2 separate regions of the Homo sapiens genome follow, and region 2 is linked to region 1. Evidence: fine-mapped QTL for protein levels in blood plasma. A gene starts in region 1. The other region holds a variant in brackets. All regions are shown on one strand. Distances are from middle to middle. Region 1 holds the start of CD2AP (CD2 associated protein). Region 2 overlaps CD2AP (CD2 associated protein).

The links. PIP is the chance, under the fine-mapping model, that this variant and not a neighbour inherited with it causes the effect. The UK Biobank Pharma Proteomics Project read protein levels with antibody pairs (Olink). The fine-mapping took linkage between variants from a reference panel, not from the people measured, so its PIPs are less certain.
Region 2: its variant is fine-mapped to the plasma level of the CD2AP protein (UK Biobank, PIP above 0.99).

What each region holds. Positions count from the first base shown.
Region 1 is chr6:47,469,260-47,481,879 of GRCh38, forward strand. CD2AP (CD2 associated protein) reads left to right here and starts at 8,530. Exons shown (of 18, transcript NM_012120.3): 1 at 8,530-8,989. The coding sequence starts at 8,986. It overlaps CD2AP-DT (CD2AP divergent transcript), which reads right to left and starts at 8,813. Exons shown (of 1, transcript NR_187257.1): 1 at 7,984-8,813. RefSeq lists a silencer at 8,292-8,801 and an enhancer at 9,088-9,814.
Region 2 is chr6:47,622,941-47,635,585 of GRCh38, forward strand. It overlaps CD2AP (CD2 associated protein), which reads left to right. Exons shown (of 18, transcript NM_012120.3): 18 at 1,246-4,323. The coding sequence ends at 1,287. Among named protein-coding and RNA genes, the nearest start is that of ADGRF4, 69 kb to the right of the region's middle. The variant A/T (reference allele first, on the strand shown) is at 4,479.

The DNA.
Region 1 (12,620 bases):
CCAGACTAAGAAAAAAGAGACAAGACCCTGATAAATAAATTCAGAGATGAAAAAGGATACATTACAACTGTTACTGCAGAAATTCAAAGGATCATTAGGGGCTACCATGGGCAACTATATGCCAATAAATTGGAAAACCTAGAAGACTTGGGCAAATTTCTAGACACCTACAACCTACTAAGATTGAAGCTTATGAAATTCAAAACCTGAATAGGGCAATAACAAGTAACAAGATTGAAGCCATAATAAAGAATCTCCCAGCCAAGAAAGTCCAAGATCCAATGTCCTCACTGGTGAATTTCACCAAATATTTAAAGAAGAACGAATACCAATGCTTCTCAAACTATTCCAAAAAATAGAGAAGGAGGGAATACTTCCAAACTTATTCTATAAAACCAATACTATCCTGATACCAAAACCAGACAAGGACACATCAAGAAAAGAAAACTACAGGTCAATATTTCTGATGAATATTCATGTGAAAATCCTCAATAAAATACTAGCAAACAGAATCCAACAGCACATTAAAAACAGCATTCATCATGACCATGTGGGATTTATCCCAGATATGCAAAGATGGTTCAACATAAGTAAATAAATCAATGTGATTCATCATATAAGCAGAATGAAGGACAAAAACTATATGATAATTTTAACTGATGCCTAAAAACCATTTGATAAAATTCAACATTATGATAAAAACCCCCCAAAAAACTGGGTATAGAAGGAACATACCTCAACACCATAAAAGCCATGTATGACAGACTCACAGCTAGTATCATACTGAATGGGGAAAAACTGATGAGAGGAAAAAATGGCCTTTCCTGTAAGATCTGGAACAAGAAAAAGATGTCCACATTCACAACTGTTGTTCAACATGGTGCTGGAAGTTCTATCTACAGCAATCAGGCAAGAGAAGGGAATAAAGGGCACCCGAATTGGAAAGGAAGAAGTCAAATTATCTTTGCATGCAGAAGATATAATTTTATATTTGGAAAAACCTAAAGACGCCACCAAAAAACTATTAGAACTGATAATCAAATTCAGTAAAGTTGCAGGATACAAAATCAACATACAAAAATCAGTAGCATTTCTATATGCCAACAGCAAACAATCTAAAAAAGAAATCAAGAAAGTAATCCCATTTATAATAACTACATATAAAATAATATATTTGGGAATTAACCAAAGAAGTGGAAGTTCTCTACAATCAAAACCATAAAATACTGATGAAAGAAACTGAAGAAGACACACACATACACACACAAACACACACACACACACACAAATAGAAAGATATTCCATGTTCATGGATTGGAAGAATCAATATTGTTAAAATGTCCACACCACCCAAAGTAATGTACAAATTTAATGCAGTTCCTATCAAAACACCAATGACATTCTTCACAGAAATGGAGAAAACAATCATAAAATTAATATGGAACCACAAAAGACCCAGAATATCCAAAGCTATCCTGAGCAAAAAAGAACGAAACTGGAGGCATTACGTTATGCAACTTCAAATTATACTACAGAGCTGTGCTAACCAAAACAGCAGGGTACTGGCATAAAAACAGACACATAGACCAGTGGAACAGAATAGAGAACATAGAAATTAATCCATACATCTACAGTGAACTCATTTTCAACAAAGGTGCCAAGAACATACTTTGGGGAAAGAATGGTTTCTTCAATAAATGGTGCTGGGAAAACTGGATACCCATATGTAGAAGAATGAAACTAGATCCCATCTGTTGTGATACACAAAAATCAAATCAAAATGGAGTAAAGATTTAAATTTCTAAGACCTGAACCTATGAAACTACTAAAAGAAAATATTGGGGGAAACTCTTTAGGACATTGGACTGGGCAAAGATTTCTTGATTAGTACCCTCACAAGCACAGGAAACCAAAGCAAAAGTGGCAAATGGGATTACATCATGTTAAAGAGTGTCTGCACAGCAAAGGAAACAATCAACGAAGTGAAGAGGCAACCTACAGAATGGGAGAAAATATTTGCAAACTATCTGCCTGACAAGGGATAAATAACTACAGTACATAAAGAGCTTAAATAACTCTATAGGAGAAATTTAATAATTTGATTAAAAATGGGCAAAAGATCTGAATAGACATTTCTCAAAAGGAGATATAAAAATGGCAAACAGGAGGCCAGGTGCAGTGGCTCACGCCTGCAACCCCAGCACTTTGGGAGGCCAAGGCAGGCGGATCACCTGAGGTTGGGATTTCGAGACCAGCCTGACCAATGTGAAGAAACCCTGTTTCTACTAAAAATACAAAAATTAGCTGGGCATGGTGGCGCATGCCTGTAATCCCAGCTACTTGGGAGGCTGAGGCAGGAAAATTGGTTGAACCTGGGAGGCGGAGGTTGTGGTGAGCCAAGATTATGCCATTGCACTCCAGCCTGGGCAACAAGAGCAAAACCCCGTCTCAAAAAAAAAAAAAAATGGCAAACAGGTATATGAAAATATGCTCAACATCATTGATCATCAGAGAAATACAAATGAAAACTACAGTGAGATATCATCTCTCCCCAGTTAAAATGGCTTTTATCTAAAAGACAAGTAATAACAAATGCTGGTGAGAATGTGGAGAAAAGAGAACCTTTGTACACTGTTGGTGGGAATGTAAATTAGTATAGCCACTATGGAGAACAGTTTTGGAGGTTCCTCATAAAACTAAAAATAGAACCACCATAATATGATCCAGCAATTCTACTGCTAAGCGTATACCCAAAAGAAAGGAAATCTTATATCAAAGAGATATCTGTCCTCTCATGTTTATTGCAGCACTACTCACAATAGCCAATATTTGGAATCAACCTAAGTGTCCATCAACAGATGAATGGATAAAGAAAATGTGGTACATATACACAATGGAGTACTATTCATTCATAGAAAAGAATGGAATCCTGTCATCTGCAAAAACATGAATGGAACTGGAAGTCATATGTTAAGTGAATTAAGCCAGGAACAGAAAGACAAACTTTGCATGTTCTCACTTATTTGTGGGAGGTAAAAAATTTAAAACAATTGAACTCACAGAGTGTAGAATGATGGTTAGAAGAGGCTGGGCAGGGGTGGGGAGAATGGGAATGGTTAATGGGTGCAAAAATATAGTTAGATAGAATGAGTATGATTAAATAGAATAACAGGGAGAGCACAGTCAACAATAATTTATTACACATCTTAAGATAGCTAAAATAATATAATTGAATTGTTTGCAACACAAAGAATGGATAAATGCTTGAGGTGATGGATATCCCATTTACCCTGATGTGATTATTATGCATTGTATGGCTGTATAAAAATATCTCATGTACCCCATAAATCTATACACCTACTATGTACCCACAAAAATTAAAAATTTCTATAGCATAAAATTTTGCAGAGATTCAAATAAGAATACTACAAATTAATTATTAAATTGAAAATTTCCCCAGTTTATTTGTCTGTGCCATGTTGATTCGAAATGCAGGTTCTCCTCAATAAGGTACATTTTATTTAAATAAGTGCAAGTTGAAATAGTTAGGTATATCTTTGCCTTCTTAGCTGGAAATCACATTCCTTGAAGGCAGAGTTTGTGTTTGCTGCAATGAATCTTTCACAGTGTCCAGCATATGAAATCCCTTGTATCTTATATTAGTTTAAACATTTATTGTATTAGTAAAAAAACATATTTACTAATTATTTGAGGGTAGTGGGTGCTTAATCAATGCTTATTTAACCAAATTTTTTTGTACCTAATTTTTTGTGACTTGTGTGCATTTTTTTTATGACCGTGGATGTAGCTGGAAAAGCAAATCAGTTGCCTACTTAAAATACTTCATTAATTGCCTCTTACTTCTAGAACAAGACGTCAAATTACTTCCCTGGCACACAGTGCTCTCCATATTTGAGTGTGGTCTCAGAGCCTGGCCCCTCAAAGACATCCTAGCCTTTTTTTTTTTTTTTTTTGAGATGGAGTCTTACTCTGCCACCCAGGCTGGAGTGCAGTGGCATGATCTTGGCTCACTGCAACCTCTGCTTCCCGGGTTCAAGTGATTCTCCTGCCTCAGCCTCCCAAGTAGCTGGGATTACAGGCACCCACCACCATGCCTGGCTAATTTTTGTATTTTTAGTAGAGATAGGGTTTCGCCATGTTGACCAGGCTGGTCTTGAACTCCTGACCTCAGGTGATCTGCCCGCCTTGGCCTCCCAAAGTATTGGGATTACAGGCGTGAACTACCACGCCCATCCTGGGCTTTGGATTGTATACCTGCCTATTGTCCTGGCTACCTGACTACCCTTCCTTGTCCTTACTGAGAATTCCAATGTACCCTCGAGAGACTCCCCAATCCTTTCTCTTTTAAGGGCAAGGACTTTATTTCTATCTCTATATTTATCATCCAGAAGCTGCTCATTTGTAATGGGTGATCAGAAAAACATCTGTTGAGTTGAATAAATGTGTACTTGTGACTGGAAATTATTTACATAATACCATGTGTATAATTTAACTGCCTGATATTTGAAAATGCAAATGTATTTGTTATTTGAGATTACTTAAAATATGTGACCCTTCAAAAGGAGCTAGCTTTAATATTTGGGAGGAGTAATGCTTCTTGAAAGATATTCCCTTTAAAGGCCTATGAGTCTCCTATGACTTGCCTATCAAATGCCAGCTTTATGACACTAGCATCTGAATAAAGTGCAAATAACACCATTAAAAAGGTCCTTGCAGTTGGCAAGTGGTGATTCATTTAGATGGGTCATCATGTTTTTAATTAACTCTTTCTTAGTATGCAATAATGAAAAGTGCTTAGAGTGGTCATAGGCCTGAGGACATCCCCCAAGTTGCTAGTCGAGGAACAGTATTTTGTTGCAAGCTGAATGGGCCACCAGTTTGAGCAGGGGGATTTTTCAGCTTCAATGATCTCACAGTATAGGCATTCTGATTGAGGTTATTATTTCCTACAATTGTTTTCTAAAGAATGATTTTTAAAATGCAGATTATACATTGATGTAATTTGGGCTTAAGTTTACAGTAAATTAGCCAGGCCAAAACAAGGTAGCAGTAAGAAAACTTCCCAGGAAACCTAGTACTTTTGAATGAGAATAAAGAAAAAATAATTAGTCACAAGATTTTAGCTAAATGAGTGCTTTAAAAATAATATAATTTAGTTAACACTTATTTTTCTTTAGCATAATCTTCTTGGTTATAATAGTTTTTACCAAAAGGAAAGAAGGCAGATGCTTTTTTAAAATATAGATATCTTCAGATAAATTCCTAAGAAAACTTCAGGAAGAAATCATGGCAGTTTAGCATGAATTACGTTGGTCTGAAATTGTGTCATTCACACAGAACTGTAGTGCTCTCCTTGATATCAGATCAACATGTTTAGTACTTGGCAGAAAAAAAGAAAGTGAATGATTAGAGTGGTGTTAGTCCATTTGTACTGGAATACAAAGAAGAATAAGGACAGATGGACAGAAACAAACCTAATCCAGTATAAAGGTAACAATAAAATAAAGGGAAAAGTAAAAGATAATTTGTTTTTAGATTAAAGGAATTTAAATTTAATATATGTGGTAAGTAGAAATTATCTTCTCACCATATTTTCTCTCATTCAACTAATAATTATTGCCAGGGAACGCAATGTTTTGAGCTGCAGACGGTGGTAGCCATATAAAAACGTATAAAACATACTGCCATACCTTGAAGGCCTCTTATAGCTGAGAAGGTAAGATTTAAAGGATGAAAAGAGCTTAAAGGAATAATTAATAACTAATATTTGCATAGCATTCAAAAGTTTAGAAGGTATTTTTACATACCATTTTGTAAGTTTAAAAGTAAATTGCTAGATTTCATTCTTCTGTTAGAATTTCCTTTGGCTTTGTCTTTGGAAAACAACATTAAATTTGGGATTGCGATTACTTCTTAGATTTACTTCAGTTTTCTCAACCATTCTTAGGGGTTCTATTCCCTGATCCTTCCAATTTCTATGATTTGTCATCTCATCATTACCTCAATGGATAATGCCTCTGAATTTGCAAAGTGAATTTAACTTTTAAACTTGTAAAATACGTACATTAATTATGGCAATAACTGATGCTAGAATTTTTTTTTTTTTTTTTTTTGAGACAGGGTCTCACTCTGTCATCCAGGCTGGGTGGAGTGCAGTGGCAGGATCACAGTTCACTGCAGCCTCGACGGCCCTGGACTCAGGTGATCCTCTCACTTCCGCCTCCCAAGTAGTTGAGACCGCAGGCCTGTGCCACCATACCTGGGCTAATTTTTGTATTTTTTTTTTTTTTTTTTTTGTAGAGATGGAGTCTTGCTATGTTGCCCAGGCTGGTCTCAAACTCCTGGGTTCAAGTGCTCCTCCTCCCTTGGCCTCCCAAATTGCTGGGATTACAAGTGTGAAGATCCTGGAATTTCTAGGACATAAATGATTGTAAATGTTTTATCTTGTTGTCAGATCATGTGACCTGACTTCTCAGAAAATATCTACCTTATCTGTGGCCTCCACTTCCTTATCATTCAATTGATAAAACCTTTAATCTGAATTTTCTATTATATATATATTCTGAATATGTAGTTATATATTATATATTCTATTATATATATTCTGAAATTATATTTTCAAAGATGCCCTTATTATCAAATCTGATAGTCTTTATTCCCCCTTCTGTTTTACTTAACTTCTTTTCCATTCTATTCATTGGCCTTTCTTCTTTAAATATTAAGGATTCTAGAGACCTAGAAATTTAGTCTCTAGAAACTTAAGGGCTCTGGGCCTTGAATTTACTACCTATGTATGTGCTTCCAATAGCTTATATTTTTGTCTCCTTTCATGAATCCTTCTTAGCCCATCACCAGCCTCATTCTTCCAAATCGTAAATGGCCTTCCTTATGGGCTGCTTGAGCCACACACATTTCTTAAAGGCTCAGAAATACTCTGTTTGCATATCCACTTCCATTCCTCAGTTCTAGGACTCCTCCAGACTGAATTATTGCCTTCCCCAAGCTTTCGTTCAACTCATACCTTCTCTTTACAGCTTGCTTTGCCCACAGTAATTTATTTTCCTTTAAATTCTCAAGCATTTGACCCTCACTACCTCATACTGTTAATTAACTTTGTGTTCGTATCTCACCCCCCTAGAAGAATGCAAAATCTCTGAGGATTAGCGCTGTACTTTAGCTTTTTATTTTTTTGCTTGGTAGGGGACAACGAACATAATGCTGAACACATATTTGTTACCTAAAAAAGGCACATGTTCCATGATGTCAATGTAATCTTGTTTAGGTGAGTATATTCAACTTTTTTCTTTTATCCTTTTTGGCTGCTGTTTGTGAGTTTGATCATTCTTGTTATAAAATTACCACATGTAACCTTTTGAGAAGCATTAGAAGAATTAAAAGATGGCAAAAGCAGGCCTATAGGAAATAGTGGTAATGGATACGTCCAAGGTTACTACTATGGGCCACTGTGCTCTGCATTGCAAGATTTGTTTGAACATACTCAAGAAATTGAAGTTCAGACAGGTTAATTTATCCAAGGTCCCACAAAAAGTAAATGGCTGTGCTGAGTTTCAAGGACCCATGTCTGCCTGGATCCAAAGGGCAAGTCAGTTTCAGTGCTGGATGACTGAGAATTACAAAATTTCTTGAAAAAGCACTAGGCACAATAGTTGGCGTTCAACAAACGCTCACACACACATCTGCCCTGGAATTGGGTCTACTTAAACAGAAGGGGGAAAAAAAGCTTGCTGAAATAATTATACTTCTTCGTAACTACCAAGCTCATGTTTGACTGACTATAGTAATCCTATGCCCTCCTTCACATTGACGCTAGAAAAAATGCCTGGCAGTATTTCAAATCATGATGCCTATTTTTCTCTCGATCAAGTAACAACTCAAATTATACTTTAAAAAGAAAAAAAGCAAATTATAAAGTTGCATTCAGCTGACAAGAGACTAAAGGAATCTGTGAAACAGAATTTATTTGATGCCTAGGTTTCTCCCTCACCCGACGAAGACCAAATGCTGCTGATCCGTAAGTAACTTCGCAAGGTAAACTGAGGGGCCTGGCAGCATCTGGGCCTCCCTTAAAGGTCGAAATCAAGTGCGCTCGCCCTCCTTCTGTCCGCCTTTTCCCTTTAAGGTCCTCGAGGCTGCTTCGCTGCAGAAAGTAACTCCGCGTCGCCGCCGCGGAAAGTGGGGCAACTTTGCCTATCAGCAGAAACCTTTTGATCCATCTGAGGCGACAAACCAGACCAAACGCCCGCCCAAGCTGTTCCGAGCCTCCGGGGGGAGAGCGAGCCCAAGCTCCTCTGCACCGCTTCCTCATCCGCTCGCTGCACCTGGACGCGGTCGGCGCGCGACCCCCGGCCGTGACGTCACCGCACCTGGCAGCAGCCGTGGGGACCGGGAGAGAGCCCGAACGCGACGGGGCGGGGTGGGGCGGGGAGAACGAGGGCGTTCTCGCGAGATTTGCCTCCTCCCGGTCCCAGCTCCCCGCACCTTCTCGGCCTCTGTCTGGGTCCCCACCTTAGTCTACGGTGTCGCCTTTTCTAACTGCGAGTGCTAAGGAAGAGGCGAGGGGCGGGCTCCGAGGCTAGGCGGGCGCTCGGGGTTGGAGCCGAGGGTCTGGGCAAACCGGTGGGTCCCTCCCCACTGCGGGAGCGGCCAGGGTGGGAAAACCGCGGTCGGGCGGGCGGGGTAGGGCCCTCCCGCCGCCGTGGCTCCTGGGGAGGCCAGGGGTGAGGAGCTGTCGCCGCCTTTGCCTCTGCCTCGAGGGCCGCGCTGAAGAGACTGGTAGGAGAGCGCCGCGGGCGGATGGAGGCGACTCTTCGCCCCGCCTGAGCTCAGGAGGGGCTAGCGCGGAGCGCGGGTCCCGCCTCCAGCCGCGGGAGCGGCCGCGCGAGCCACCACTGGAGGAGGAGGAGGAGGAGCGGACGTCGGCTTCTCCCCGCGGGAGCCCCCAGCATGGGTAAGAGACTCGGGCGCTTCCCGCCGCCCGTCCGGACCTTCCAGACCCGGGGAGGCTGTGCCCTTTCTCGGCCTTCTGGGGAGGCGACTGCGGTCAGCCCCTGAGCGGCAGCACCCCACCCTCTCCATTCTCCCCACCGCCCCTTCTTGCCCTGCCTTCCACCTTGCTCTTCTCACGGAGAAACTGGTGGGAGAGCTCGCGGGTGCTTTCCCTCGCTCTCCCTTCTCCGCCTCTTTTCCTGTTCACCAGAAAGGTGCGGGATGGGGGGCGGGGGCGCCTGGCCACCTCTGCTAACCCCTTGCCCAGCTAAAATCAGACCTGACCTTCCTTCCCTTCCTCATCCCCTTGCTTCCCTCCCCCTCCTCGTGGGATGGGGGAGGGCGATCGAAAAACTTGATAAAGTAGCACTTTCAACTTCTTTATTTTCTGCGAGGCTTTGAATACGTTTAAGGAGAGAGATAAATTTGTTCAAAAACTTTTTTTTTTTCCTGCTGAAACTCGCAAGGGGTGCCTCAAGGACAGGAAAGCTTGAGTATTTGTTTTACTCGGGTTCTACCTAGGCAAGTGTGTTGGCACCTAAGCATTCAGTGTGCTCCCGAGGACTGGGTTTGGACTTCAGTGTTGGATCCTTTGAGGAGCAGTTTCCTGTTTGGAGTTAGACTTCCTTGCCGGAGGAGAGAAAAATACAAGGCCTTATATGTTATTTACTATGTGCTTTATAGTTTTGTTTGAAGTTAGAGAAGGCAGAATGTGTGGCAGTCCGGGTTGAAAAGGAGTTTTGTTAAGTGGTGTAACAATTTCTTTTGATAACAAAGTTCGGTGTGGGCTAGGCATTAAACTAACTCCCTCAATCCTTTAAAAATTAAAAGCAACTTAAGAATAGCTTACAAAAAACAAAACACCCTGTGTCTCTATAAGGCAGAACGTGTTCTGTAAGAGTAAACCCAAGTTTGATTTTTGTAGAGCAAATCAGGAGGACCCTATCACTTTTTGCAGTTGAGAGTTGGTACTGCTTCATATCAACAAACGATCACCGAAATGAATAATTCATGTAATTAACAAATGATTTAGAAGCAGGACGAATACAGACTACTGCTGATGTGGCACCCTCTGTCCACACTTTGCTTTGTGGGGGATGTTTTGAGCATATTGTTTATAGACACTCGCCTAGCTATCCTCTGTTTTCTTAGACTTTTCTAATTTTATGTTCCCTTCTCCACCTCCCTCCTTTCAGGTAACTTTCATACTCAAAAGTGCTCTTGAGCTCAAAAACAGTGAAATAAAACATTTGCTATTTGGAATTTTCAAATGAATTATTTTATAATTGATTAGTTGAGCTTGCAGGGCAATTGTGGGCATATTCTTTTAAGTATGAAATTATAAAATCACTTTAACTGCTTTGGATTAAGATAATACTAAAGTTAATTACACAGTTCTTTTCTGTCTTAAATGGGATGCAGAATAAAATTAAACTACTTTGGATGACCTGGGGATGCAGTCTTGTTTTGCATATAGGGCTTTTGAGCTAAATTCTAAATAATATTTGTTCGCATTTTGAAATTATTTAAATACTTTTTTTTTTTGCTTTGCTTTTGGATGTGCTTGTAACTGATTAGTGTCCCCCATCATCTTTCCTTTTCTAATTTTTTTTTAGAAGTGTGGAAATCATATTCAGGTTTGTGATTCTGCATAGGGGAAAAATCAGTAGGCCGTTACTTAGTGTGTGAGGTCGTCTCTGGAGAAAAGTAAATGTGTACCAATACTTGGACATTGGAATACCTATTTTGATTGTCCAGAGGCTTTTTCTTTGTGATTTATTTGTTGTGTTCTGTTTAGGTGAGTTTTCATATAGACTTGGATATCAATGTTGGTATACTCTCGACTACTTAGAATGTGTTTTGAAGGTATGTTACTGAGGGCATTTGTGGTTAAGTTTTTGTAAAGTGTTTGTGAAACATTTCCATATCAATATATATATTCTTTAAGTTTATTGGTCATGTAATAATAAAATTCCCAAGTTCACTTAAAGGGAGTTTGCTCTTTAATATAAATCTCATTTATTTGGTTTTACCAGCCATCCTTTTTTCTTATGATTTTAGATGCAGCCTAAAATATTTACATGATATTTTATCTAATTTGTCACAAAATGAAAAAATCTGAAATTTTTTTTGTGTGTAAGATAATTTGGATGCCTATTAAATGGTGGTTCTTAAGTTTAGGTGGTACAGCTAGAGAGTTAAAAGCATGGGCTCTGGACAGAGACTACTTGAGGTCAAATTCTCTTCTACCTACTGGCTGTGTGACTGAGCACATTACTTCTCTGTGCTTCAGTTTCTCAATCTATAAATGGAATAAAATATCAACCTCATAGGTTGTTAGGAGGATTGAATGAGTTACTACTTGTAAAGTGCTTAGAACACTGCCAGTGCTGGCGGTGGTGATTTTCATTTTCAAATGATTTCCCTAATTCTTGTACCAACTTGGGAAAAAAAAAATCTCAATTTTTGACCTTTGTTAGAAGTAGGATATTTTCTTTAAATAAAGGACCAGAGGGATGAGATGATTTTGCACTAAGGCAGAAATTGAATTTTATGTGATATAACCTTACAGAAACCACATAGATACTTTTTTCAATGTTGGATGTACTGTGCGAAAGTCCATTATTGGTAAGAGCTTTAGTTGCTTAGGAAAAACTCTTAAGTGGGATGACTACTAGTAGACTTATTTGAAGTTTATGTTTTTAGTGTCTACATTTGTTAAATGTGATAAAATGCCTATTGAGAAGTTTGAGGTATTCTGTGTGAAAGAATTTGGGAAGAGCTCTAGGGAGACAGATAGGCAGTGCTTATTTTTCTTATTCCAAAAATACAGATCGGCATTTTGGAGCAGAATTAGGCAGAAAGCAAATGGCACAAAGTGTCAGAGCATTTCTAGAGCACAAAAAAGGAATATTTGTGAATTTTTATTTTTGGAAGAGTAAGCAGACTTCTAAGGGCAGAATTTCTCTTTAATAATTTTAGATAAGGCGGTGAACTTTTTAGTTTATTTTATAGGCTCTCGTATATAAAACATATCAGTCATGTGGTGGTGTTTTTTTGTTTGTTTGTTTGTTTTTTTGATGGAGTTTTGCTCTGTTGCCCAAGCTGGAGTGCTGTGGTGCGATCTCGGCTCACCGCAACCTCCGCCTCCTGGGTTCAAGGGATTCTCTTGTCTCATCCTCCTCAGTAGCTGGGATTACAGGTGTGTGCCACCATGCCCAGCTAATTTTTGCATTTTTAGTAGAGACAGGGTTTCACCATGTTGGTCAGGCTGGTCTCGAACTCCTGACCTCATGTGATCTGCCCGCTTTGGCCTCCCAAAGTGCTGGGATTACAGGCGTGAGCCACTGCACCTGGCCTCGTGGTGGTTTTAATAGACAAATTTGTGGTTGGTTTAGATGATATATGCACTTCTATAATAGAGTGATTTCTTTATGTTACTTTGTTGTACTGTTTGGAGAAAATATTTTAAAAATTTTTATTTATATGTTATTTATTTACTTATTTTTAGAGACAAGGTCTTGCTCTGTTACCCAGGTTGGAGTTCAGTGGCATGATCATAGCTCACTGCAGCCTCAAACTCTTGCCTCTGC
Region 2 (12,645 bases), 150 kb after region 1:
TAGCCTTCACACTCCCTACTCCCTCTTCTACCAATTTGTTTTTCTTACCGCTTTCTGTATCTTTGGAATAAAGACTTTAATAACAGATCGGGCTGACAATGAAAGCTATCGTCTCAATCCAAATTGAAGACAGGCTTGTTGTAGTCCAGTGCTGCTAAAACATTGAGCTAATCATCATAATATTTACAGAATCATATCAAGGAAGATCCTGAAATTAATAAACGGTTCTTGAGTAGTTATAATCCTTTAGGAGATTGTGAACATATAAAAATTATACTTTTTGACTATGGCAAAGTCCTAATCGTTTAATAATGTGCTGTTTGTCGAAGCTAGCCAAAGCATGTATTGTTTATGTGCACTCTTGAGGAAGGTGATGCCATCAGGATAAGGCAAGGCCTATATATTTCCTCATGCAGGGAAAGGTTAAAGATGATCAAAATGTTATAGAATTGAGAAGAGAAATCAATATAAAAACCATGGGCTTTAAAGCCCTAAATCTTACCATGACAAGTCCTGTGTCACTTGTTAGTGTGGAACATTGGCATCCTGTTTAATGTCTTTGAGCCTCAACCTAGCCATTTGAATATGGCAGTATTGAATAACTCTGTGTAGTTATTGTGCAAACTTAATGAAATGATCTCCTTCTTCATAAATTCCTTAAGTTATGAATTTCCTTCTGCCTAAAGGTGGAACTATATCAAGCACCTTGACTGAATCTTAGATATATTCCTGGGCTTTAAGATATTTAATGTAGTATATACTGGTTACAGATAAGTAAATTGAAACCAAGTCAAGTGATTTAACAATAATTATAATTATAATTAAGTATAATTAGTGAAAAACATGGAACTAAACAGGTCTCTATTCTTTTTACTGTTGTTTATGTATCCTTTGTTTAATTATAGATACATGTACATTTCTTAATTTGGTTTCAAGGATTCTTTTGTTCTTTGTAGGACTGACTGATTTTTTTACAGCTTTAATTTTAAATGCTCACATGACTTAACATTTGTTCTGGCTGAAAGGGCTATAATTGCTTTTTTCTTATTGTAACTGCCATTTAGGAACTTGCATTGTACTGTTGAAACTTTATTCAACCAAATTATAGCATGGGAAACTGGATTTTAGGTCTGGAAAAAAAGTCTGAAGGCTTGAAAGTATGATCACATCTTAATGACATAGAGTAAAATAAACTACTAAACTAAGGATATTTTATGTTTGCTCAATTTATGTTTTTTGTTTTAGATGGAAATAGAGAAGCTGAAAAAAGCTGTCCTGTCTTCTTGAGTGGTGTGGACCTGGTGTTCATAATGTTCCAGGGATTCAGAAGCAACGCTATGAACTTCAGCTGACTTGTTACTTAAAAATTGTGAATTCTGTTGTTGTGATAAATATGAGCAAATGAAGTGTAATATCTATAGAAAAGTAGAGTGAGGGTGAATTTATATATATATTTTGTTTTGCCAATATGAAGAAAAAGAGGCCTTATTTCTTAACTGTGCTGGGATTGCAAACACTTTTTAAAAAATTGTTTGCTTGAAAATACTACTGAATATAAATAAGAATGTGCACAGTAGTTTTTTTATTGAAACTTGTATTATTTTTAAAGAGATCTATACTATAAATATGGTGATATATTTACAAGTAATCTGTTAAGATATACTATTTGAGAGGGACAGATTAGCCTTTTAGTAACTATAGTCACTACTTTTTCCATAATGCATAAGGGATATAAACTCTGTGTGTGTGTGTGTGTGTGTGTGTGTGTGTGTGTGTGTGTGTATATATATATATATATTTTTACTTTTATCCTCTTACCGAAGGTTACACTGTTGTGCCTGTTTGTCTGCAATGCTGTTTATATTTTGGGTGATGAAATAGGAGTTTCCTAGCTATATAAACCAGATTACTCACCCATGCATATAGTAAGAACTAATGAATAATCAAAATAATTTCATCAACTTTTAGAATATTTTATGTTGCTTGCACTATAGGAGTCATAAAAGGAACTTAGTTAAAATATGTTGGATTGTTAAACATTTGGGGAAATATGAACTGTATTTTAAATTTGTTAGGTCTGAAGAATCTAAAACTGTTAATTTAACCCTTAACTTGTGCCTAGAAACTACAGCACATATAAAATATGTAAACACCAGCCTGTTGCTGTACTTTTCTGCTTATTTTACAGCCTCAAATATTTCTCATTATCTTGTCACTTAGTTCTTCATGTTTCTCCTTCTGACTTTTAATAATGGTAATAGGAAAACAAAACCCAAAGCTTTTCAGAACTTCAGTGTGAGGTTTCCTATTTTGACAAGTTAACTTGTAAATACTCAGGTTTTACGATGTATAATTTACCTAATAGACCAAACTAACTCATGGAGATATTTTGAACTATTATTTAGGTACAAACTTTATAAAGAATGTTAGTATGTCATAAAATATAACATTACAGCTTATTTAAAACCAAATATAGTTGAACATATTTAAAATACATTTTCACAGAATGGATGAATTAGTTGTTTCTTCAGAGTTACTTATGAACAGTTGAATGCTTTAAAATGTTCTGTCTGTAGGTAACATCTAAAACACAAGTGGGTTTATTTAAATTTTTAAAATTTGAAATTTTTTATTTGCAAAAAATTGTTTTATGCTTTATTATATCGCAAATGAGTGTCAGATTTTTGAGTACCAATGATCATGCTTCCATTTTTTTTAGTTTTAAACCACCAAACCAATATTTTTCCTTTAAATTTTAATCTTATAATATAGAAATCTTATGTAAATGAAATTTTGTCATGTTTCAAATAAAGAGAACTGAAGTAGAAAATAGAAATGCCAGTAAACAACATAATGTTTAATTTACAACTTACATTAGGGGTTTGGGGGAATGCTAATTATATATTGAGAATATACATTAGAACTCTTCAAAATGGGCTCTTCTAATGAGGTCACTACTGAACAAAATTGTTCCCTCTTCTGTTAAATAGAATAGGTTTAAATGACTAGTCAAATGAATTATTTTCTTCTTGTTAAATAAATTAAATCTTACTTTCTTTTAATGACCAACCTTAGGTAAAACAAAAATATTGTAATCCTAGAAATTATCCTCCAGCTTTCTCACCTGAAAATCTATTGAAGTGATCCCTGGTCATCCTAATAATGGGATGAGGGAAGTTTCCAGCAGATTTCAGGCTGTTCTTAAAGTTTTTGTTGGTCATTTTCTCAATAGTACATGAAATCAAGATGCTTATGAGCATGGAAATGTATTTAAAGTTTTTGCTTGTGTCCTCCTCAGTCAGAATAGAAAAGTAACTGAAATACTTTTACCTTTCTGTCCTTGATAAAATAGTAAAGAAAACCAAACAAACCCAGGCCTGATGGGAAAAATGATTCCTTTATTCTAGCAACTTACTTTCTGTTGGTATGGGAAATGTTATTAATTTCTATTACTAAAGTTCATATCACAAAATGATATTTAATAATAACCTTGGGGTAAATCATGAATTTTTTTTCTACGTGTGAGTATAAAAGACAAAAGTTGAACAGCATGGAATCTCATTGCCAAATTATTAGTGAATGTATAGTTCAGGTATTCTTTGAGACACACAGTATCATTAATTTCTGAATTGTATTTCAGTGTTATTTTTTGTTTGTGACCACTAAGCTTCTGTCTTAATACAAAGCTGTTACCTTCTACAGAATTTAAGTCTGAAGATGTAAAGAGAGAACAGGCCTTGTGTAACAGAAGATACTCTTTTTTATGCTCCTTACTGTGATCACAGAAAAATTAAAAATCCAAGTGCTCTCTAGATTTGTTGATAAACATTTTATGCTTGCATTTAAACTTGAAATGTATGAGCAGAATGAGACAATCAGTTAAATCAGAAATGAGAAGTATTATAATGTAAAGGCCTTGTTTTGCTGTAGCAATAAAATGACCAAGTGCAATGACTTGATTTAATAAAATCATATTTTAAAAGTTGCTGCTATGAATATTTTTGGCTATAAAATTTTACCCTGACTTGCTTTCAATAACTGTTACGTAATGCAGTTGATGTTGTAACCTAACATTCCAAAAAAAAAATTGAGAGGGGGAATCTCAAAATAGTATATACTTCACTAACTTGTTTACAGGTGCTGTATTTAAAAGCATGCTTCTCTCTCAAAAAGAAAAATTAAAGGATTTTATTGCCAGTCGTGTCAGTCTTTATTGGTTATTTTTTGTTAACTTTAGCATTTGTGTATTTCAGAGTATGATGAAAATTATATTACTTCAATTTCCAAATACAAGAATAAATAGTAAACCAAAAACATTAAAAATTCTAGACCCGTATGACTTTTACTGAACTTTTCTGAGTCTGGTTTTTCATCTGAAACTGAGACAGTAATTTCTACTTTACAGGATTATGGGGAGAATTTGAAATAGTTTATCTAAATGGCTTTGTAGAGTGCTTGGCATAGAGTAGGTTTTTTTT[A/T]AAAAAAAAATGGAGGCTGCTGTTTTACCTTTTTAAAAAGCATTTTACAGTGATGGATATGATAAAAATTAGATGGATAAGGTTAAGAAAAAGGAGGCATTGTGTATCCTTTCCCCCTGAATACGGTATAGTATCCTTTTCTTTGGGGAGATGCTCCTTTCATTTGTATTATATTGTTCAAAGGGGAGCTGCTACCATCTTACAGATTCTACCTCCTTGATCACCCCACCCAGGAAATCCCTTGAGAGAGTACTTGGCTCAAACTGAGTTACTGAGTTAATCAAAGAATGAAATTTTTAAAATTGGAAACAAAAAGAGCTAATCTCAGCATGGGAGCTCTCCACAGTTCTGTTTTTCTGTCATCTGGAAAAAGCTGATTTGAAAAACAAAATTTAGTAGAGCATAGATAGATGGAAACAGAATCTGGAAGGACTTTGAAACTGATTGTAGCTGTTGCTGAGTCTCAGCTGTCTATTGCTTGGTTCTATAAGCACAGACTTGCTCATAAGCTTGTTGGGTTTCTGAACTCACAACCGAAAAAGTCCTGATAAATAACAGAAAACAAGATGAAATCAGGAGAACATTAAGGTCCACATACTTTTGCTGAACATAGATCACATATAGCTTTAGAGATTCTAGTAGTGTGCTGGAAGATTTGAAACAGAAGGAATAGGACACCACTATAAAGCAATGTGGAAAATTAGTGTGTCATAAGATTTTTAAAATCTTATTTAAAAAATTTCTAGTTCTTACTGGCTTTTAGAAGCACTAGACAAAAAACTTTGGAGGCATATAATGGTAAAAGTTTTGGACTATAGAATTTGTGTTTGAAGAGTGCAGATGGTTTTGTCTGAAAATACAATTTGCAAATTTAGCCCAGTTCTAGGAAATAAAAGCAGGTAGCAGTTTAACTCACCTGGATTTATTAGGCTGTATTCTCAAGATGCAAGAGAGACTGGGTCTGGGTGTTAAAATTTTTTTTTCTGAATCCTGTTGCATTTATTTTACCACTGACACCATTTTTGTGAATCTGCTCTTCCATGTAAGGAAAATAAATTCACAAATAGATATCAGTATTTTTTGTATAGAGTCAATAGTTTTTTTCTGTCATGAAAGGTGTGGCTATTTTGCAACTATTGGATGGTATTATTTCCTATCAGGTTCCAAGTGTTTCTTACTGACTACATTTCAGTTCCCTTTAAAAGTGTGTGAATAAAGTTATTGAAAGTAAAACTACATTTTAAGTGCATTGAGAAACTTTTTTTTTTTTTTATTCCAGTCAGGGTCCTTCTCTATTACCCTGGCTAGAGTGCCGTGGTGCGACCTCAGCTAACTACAACCTCTGCCTCCTGGGCTCCAGCAATCCTCCTGCATCAGCCTCTTGAGTAGTTGGGACTACAGGTGCATGCCACCACACCCACCTAATTTTTTTTTGTTTGTTTTGTTTTTGATACTGGGTTTCACCATGTTGCCTGGGCTGGTCTTGAACTCCTGAGTTAAAGCAATCCGCGCTGCTCCCCTCGGCCTCCCAGAGTGCTTGGATTACAGGCATTAGCCACCATGCCCAATGAGTAACAATTCTTTAATAAAATCACATGTTAACTTTTCATGGTAGAGTGGATTTTTAGAGATATTCCTAAACATTAACTGAACAGAATGTAAACGATGTGACGGAGTGATGACATTTTTACTGTCTTTTCCTCCCTTGAGACTCATTAAAAACAGTAAGTACAATGAAAAAGATTTGATATTAATAGATTAAAAAGCAGATTTAAGATAAAAACATTGCTTTTCAGATGAAATAAGGAAGCTACAATTTATAATAGTAAAAATACCTTCCAAATGTTTTGGAGGGAGCAACCTGAAATCTGATATAAACTTTCCCAGACTTTGTGCCAGATGCAGATTTCTCTGAAAGGCTCATCTGATCATTGTAGGCTCAAATCCTGTACAGAAGGATAGCTGGGGAATGTGGAGCTGAAAGAGAAGCCTCACTAACTGTAAGCCCTAATAATTGGAAGTCTGAAAACCAAGGAGAAGGAGACATGCTCTTAGGGAAGACAGATGTAATGAGAGAATATTTTGGCTAACAATTTATAGCTCTTCTTCCTTGCTGTGCTATTCATCAAATAACTGACACCATGGAAACGTGAGTAATCAGACACAAGTATCTTTATGGATACCTGTGTTTTATATAACAAAAAAAAAGTTGTCCAGAAGAAAACCTTGATTAAAATCCTTTATGTCCCAGGAGGAAAAAAATGGCATGATATGTAACACCAAGACATCTGTTAAGTTATGGAACTTTAAAGAATGAATACTGACTCAAAGAAGAAGTTGAAATTTTTAATTGACTAAACACACCGTAAGTGAATTTGAAACGTATTTAAGGCTCTACAACTGAGAAAGACAGCAAGGCCAGATGATGGCTGTGTTTTAATTGGTCTTTAAGCTACTCAAACTGTAGAAAAAGATGGAAAGCCACCCAATTTATTTTATGAATCCAGCATAACTTTAAACCTGATCATCATAAACCAAATCTCACAGGGAGAGATTTCATATCAGGAAATTTATCAATCTCAATGCATGATATGAAATTATAAGAGAAAAATAAAATGTTCACTTTGATAAAAGGAAGGGGTTTCCTGTACTGGGTATGGTGGTGAAGAACACAGTAACAAAATGGTACCACTGTCTTGATGCGTGCCTAGCAGTTCTAGTCACCGTCACCACTGCGTTTACACTAGCAGTGCAAATCTCAACACAATGAGAAAAGCAACTAGCATCTTCGTATTATCATGAAAGTTGTTTTGACCTTGTGGACCACACTTTGAGAACCACTGACCTAAAATGACCTAGTATGGTCTTTAGCATGTAGTAGACAATCAGTAAATGTTTAGTGGATGAATAAGTGACAAAAGGGGAGGTATTCTCTCTACCCCTTGTCTTTACCGTCTCCTACCTTTTCTTCCTTCCTCAAATATTCAAGTATAATATCTCCTCAAGACTAACCACTATCATGCCGATTGCTATAAAACAGACATTCTTCCAGGGACTGCATTAGGCTCTTAAAATGTATTTAACAAATTTTATATACTGGACTTTAGATGGTCAGTTTACCCTACATTTTATAGTAAACTTACCTTTAAAAGTAGGCATCGCGTCAAACATAGCTAATGTTTATATTGTGCTTACCACATACCAAGTGCTATTCCAAGTAATTGCTATCTAATTTACCTGTCTATCCTATCTAATCATCTCAACAATCCTGCGTGCTAGGAGGTATTATACTCCACACACGGGAAAGAGGCTAAGGAAGGTTAAGCAACTTGGCCAAGGCCACTGAGCTAATAAGGCCTGGAGCTGAACTCAGCCCAAGAAACCGAGTTTTGAAGCCTGTGCTTTTGCTCATAAGCTTTATTGCCTCTCTACATAGATAATATATAGGAAAGAAGGAGCCTGCCTGGGGAATATTAATTTCTTCTAGTCTAGTCTTACTTCTTTCACTCTTTGTGATCCTTTATATTAAGTCTGTCAACATTTTTCCACCAGTAAGAGACTAAATGTAAAGTCTATTTTCAGGGATCTCATAGTTTTTAGATTTCTCTGTGATGTGGTCACACAAGATTTTGGGAAACGTTCTTCATTTCTTAGTGTACATCTTTGCAAACTTAAATGGTTTTCATGGCTTTTCAGCAAAAACACAATAAACAACCTTACGTAGCTTCCATAAAGAAATTAAATGGGCCAGGCACGGTGGCTCATGCCTGAAATCTCAGTACTTTGGGAGGCTGAGGTGGGAGGATTGCTTGAGCTTAGAGCCCAGTCTGGGCAATATAAGGAGACCTTGTTTCTACTAAAAACAAAACAAAAACAAAAACTAACTGGGTGTGTTGGTGTGCATCTATAGTCTCAGCTACTTGGGAGGCTGAGGCGGGAGGATCGCTTGAGCCCAGGAGGTTGAGGCTGCAGATCGCGCCACTGCACTCCAGCCTGGGCAAGAAAATGAGGCCCTGTCTTTCAAAAAAAAAGAAAAAAGGAAAAAAACAAAATTAAATGACCACTAGATGGCAGTCAAATAAAGCTCAGCTTATATGTGTCTTGAAACCATAAACAGGTAGCAGCTGCAAATAAAATCAGAGAGGGCTCCAACCTTCACCCAGAACTGGGACACAACCAACCCTACTTCCCTAGCCTGATTACTTCCCCAAGCTAAGTGCCACATGATAGGGTAAAAAGAGTTGGGGCCTTGGAATCGAACTGATCTCGCTCTGAAAACTGGCTCTAAAAATGAGTAGCTGTGTGAACTTGGCAAATCACTCAAGTCTTATCCCTTTCCTTATCTAAAGAGACATAAAAACTTTGTTTTGCCAGAATTTAAACCCTTTCCTTCTTGCCGTTTACTCAGGGAAGAGGGAGAAAGGAGGCCCTGAGTTCTGGGAGAACAAGTCAGACAGCAGCAACAAAACCATCTTGCTCTTGTTTGTCATTTCTGTTGGATGTTGACGCCTTGAGGGCTCCTTTGACCCCAGGTTGCTGCAGTGAGTCCTGAACCTTTTCTCACATGTGTTATTTGCCACTTCCTGTCCTTGATTCTCTGGTGGCACCTCCCGTTCCTCCATTTTGTCCTGCAATGTGCTCCTACCACAACCAGGCCAAAGAGAAAGCAAATCCCATTTATGGTTGCTTATGTAACCAGCTCATATAATAGTTTTGTAGTGAGCTTTGTGCTCCAGGCTTCTTAAGGAGTTTCTGGTAGGGCATCTCTGGTTTTGCCACTTCTGTCTTTTTCCTATGTGAAGTCTAGTATAATTCATATAGAGTTGGAGTCTGCCAGTACAGTCCAGAGCCAGTGGTCAGTGGAGAGAGTCTATGGTGCCACGACCATGCCTGAAAAAGTGAATCCATTTTCTGCCCAAATTCTAAGCAGGAAATGACTTTTCTCTCCAAAATGGGGTTAAAATGTCCATATTGTGGTGATGATGTGACTGTAGGGTCACAGAAGCAGAGAATAGTCCTACCCCAGAAGGAACGTGGTCACCTGAAAGACTTCAGAAGTGAAACATGCTATATAGGAGGACAGAGCAAGACAACATCACACAGATCTTTCCACTGACAAAATAGCCAGCCATCTGCAGTATGCTTTAGGGAAAAGCAAAACCTTTCATGGATATCAGTAAGTCTTGACCCAGGGCTTAGACAGTATTTTGAACAAGTGACAAAACTAGTGATTATGATTCTTAATAGTGATAAAAATCCTGGAGTATGAGAAAAACAACATAGTATACATAAAAGTATTCAGGGACCGTTTCCTTAGTCTCACCAAGATTATCACCAGTTCCATGGAGAGAGAGGGAGAAGTAGAGAATGAAATAAAATAATGTATATTCGTTTTAGTCTATTGAATTTGTGAATGTATGTGTAATGCAAAAATGCCTTTATGTTTGTTTATCTTGATCTGAACCTGTGTTCTTACTGAGGCAAGAAAAAAATTGCCATTCAAAGGCTACATTCTCATCTGGCTTATTAATTAATTGATTATTTTTTTTGTACGTGTATGAGATGGAGTCTCACTCTGTTGCCCAGGCTGGAGTGCAGTGGCATGATCTCAGCTCACTACGTCTGCCTCCCGGCTCAAGTGTTTCTTGTGCCTCAGCCTCCCAAGTAGCTAGACTATAGGCATGTGCCACCATGCCCTGCTAATTTTTGTATTTTTAGTAGAGACATGGTTTTGCAATGTTGGCCAGACTGGTCTCAAAAACTCCTGACCTCAAGTGGTCTGCCCGCATTGGCTTCCCAAAGTGCTGGGATTACAGGCATGAGCCACCATGCCCAGCTGTCATCTGGTTTAAATTATAAATCACTGCATATACAAAATAAGTAGCAATCAACATAAAATTCCCTTGGGCTGTTTCTCCTCACTCAGGGATCTGCCTTTGTTCTTAGTGTGGTGTCTGTGTGTGCAAGAAGTGGATACATCCTCTAGGGAGCAGGAGGAGACAAGACTCCGTGTTTCTGAGCCTCTTGCTCTCCTCTGCCCCTTTCCTCCCTAGTTGAGTATTGATGTGAGAAGACATCTCACCTCTTGCCTGGCCCTTGCTCTTGCTCTCTGTGTCGGAACTTCTCTTGTTCAGAACCAGAAGGGCTCTGGATTAGCTTTCTATTGCCGCTGTAATTATCACACAAATTTAGTGGTGCAAAAACAATAGACATGTATTATTTTATATGCTGGAGGTCAGAAGTCTGACATGAATCTCACTGGGCTAAAATTAAGGCTTCCAAAGGAAGCTCTAGGGGGAAAATTCCTTTCCTTGCCTTTTCCAGCTTCTTTAGGCTGCTGGCAATTCTTAGCTCATGGCCCCCTTTCCCCATTTTCAAAGCCACCTGTAGAGGGTTGAGCCCTTCTTAAACTGCAGTCCTCCATCCTTCATGCATAATCACCTCTCCCTGATTCTGTCTCCCTCTCCACTCTTAAAAACCCTTGTGATTACATTTGGCCCACCTGTCTGAAGGCTCTTAATCACATTAGCAAAATCCCTTTTGCCGTGTAAGGTAATGTATTCACAGATTCCTGGGACTAGAATGTGTGTATATATCTAGGTGGCAGTGGTGGTGGTGGGGATTATTCTGCCAGCCACAGGCTCTCTGCTTCCTGTCAGATTGAAATGTTCCTATATTCTAGCCTTCTTTTCCCTATGCTGTGGTATTCACCCTTCCCTTCTTTATGGCAGTAAAGGAAGGCTTCAGACAAAGGATTCAGCTTACCAGTGAGTGAAAGTACTTTTTAGGTGGGGGGTGTTTTAAAAAATCATCCCCAGAATAAATAGTGACTTGCCCAGGGAGTTTTGAGGGGCATTGATGAATACAGTGAAAAGGAAACACTTTACCCTGGGAATAATTCACCATTCCAACAACTAGACTCTTAAAATTAGCTAGACAACTAATTTCATGGTAGATAATGACACTGGAAAGAGGAAGATAATAAGATCCCCTGCTGATCAAATCTGAGCCTGAAGCCTATTTAGTGACTAAGATAAGAAATGAGGTTATCGACTACTTAAACAACAAAGCTGAGGAAAACTGGGTGGTGGACAAAGAAGAGAAAATATAAATTAAAAATTTGAGGGTGAATTTTAGAACTTTAGAAGTAAGTTTTCCTGATGGCTGAGAATTCAAACCAACATACTTTCCTGTCCTTGTGATAAACAATACTGGTACTGGACATTCTTTCCTGTCCCAAGTGAAATACCAAAAGCAAACAAAAATAGATTAGGTACTTGCTCTCCAGGAAATATTTGCTCTTGGAAGATAAAATTCTGAATAAAACAAAATAGCTTATTAAGGGAGAAGACTACCCCTCATATTGTCTTATGCCCAATTTCTGCCTCCAAAGAAAGAAGAAGTAAAAACTAAAAGACAGAAATGAAATCCACAGGCAGAGAGCCCAGCGCCGCACCCTGGGCCTGGTTAAAGATTGACCCCTGACCTAACTGGTTATGTTGTCTATAGATTCCAGACATTGTATGGAAAAGCACTGTGAAAATCCCTGTCCTGTTCTGTTCCATTCTGATTACCAGTGCATGCAGCCCCCAGTCACGTACCCCCTGTTTGCTCAATCAATCACGACCCTCTCACGCAAACCCCCTTAGAGTTGTAAGCCCTTAAAAGGGACAGGAATTGCTCACTCGGGCAGCTCCGTTTTTAGAGACGTGAGTCTTGCCGAAGCTCCTGGCCTAATAAAGCCCTTCCTTCTTTAACTTGGTGTCTGAGGGGTTTTGTCTGTGGCTTGTCCTGCTACATTTCTTGGTTCCCTGACCGGGAAGCGAGGTGATTAACAGACTTCGAGGCAGCCCCTTAGGAGGCTTAGGTCTGCCCTGTGGAACATCCCTGTGGGGGACTCCAGCCAGCTTGAGCAACACGAATCCTGAGAGCGCTCGCGGGTAGGCAATTGCCCTAGTGGAACAGCTCACCAGAGCAGTGCCTGGCAGGCCCCCGTGGAGGATCAACGCAGTGGCTGAACACCGGGAAGGAACTGGCACTAGGAGTCTGGACATCTGAAACTTGGTAAGACTGGTCTTCGGAACTCGCCCACTCCATTTGAGTGGAAGCGTGGCCTGATCACCCATGGCAGCCTGTACCTGCGCTTTGGTTTTTGTTTTTGACTTGA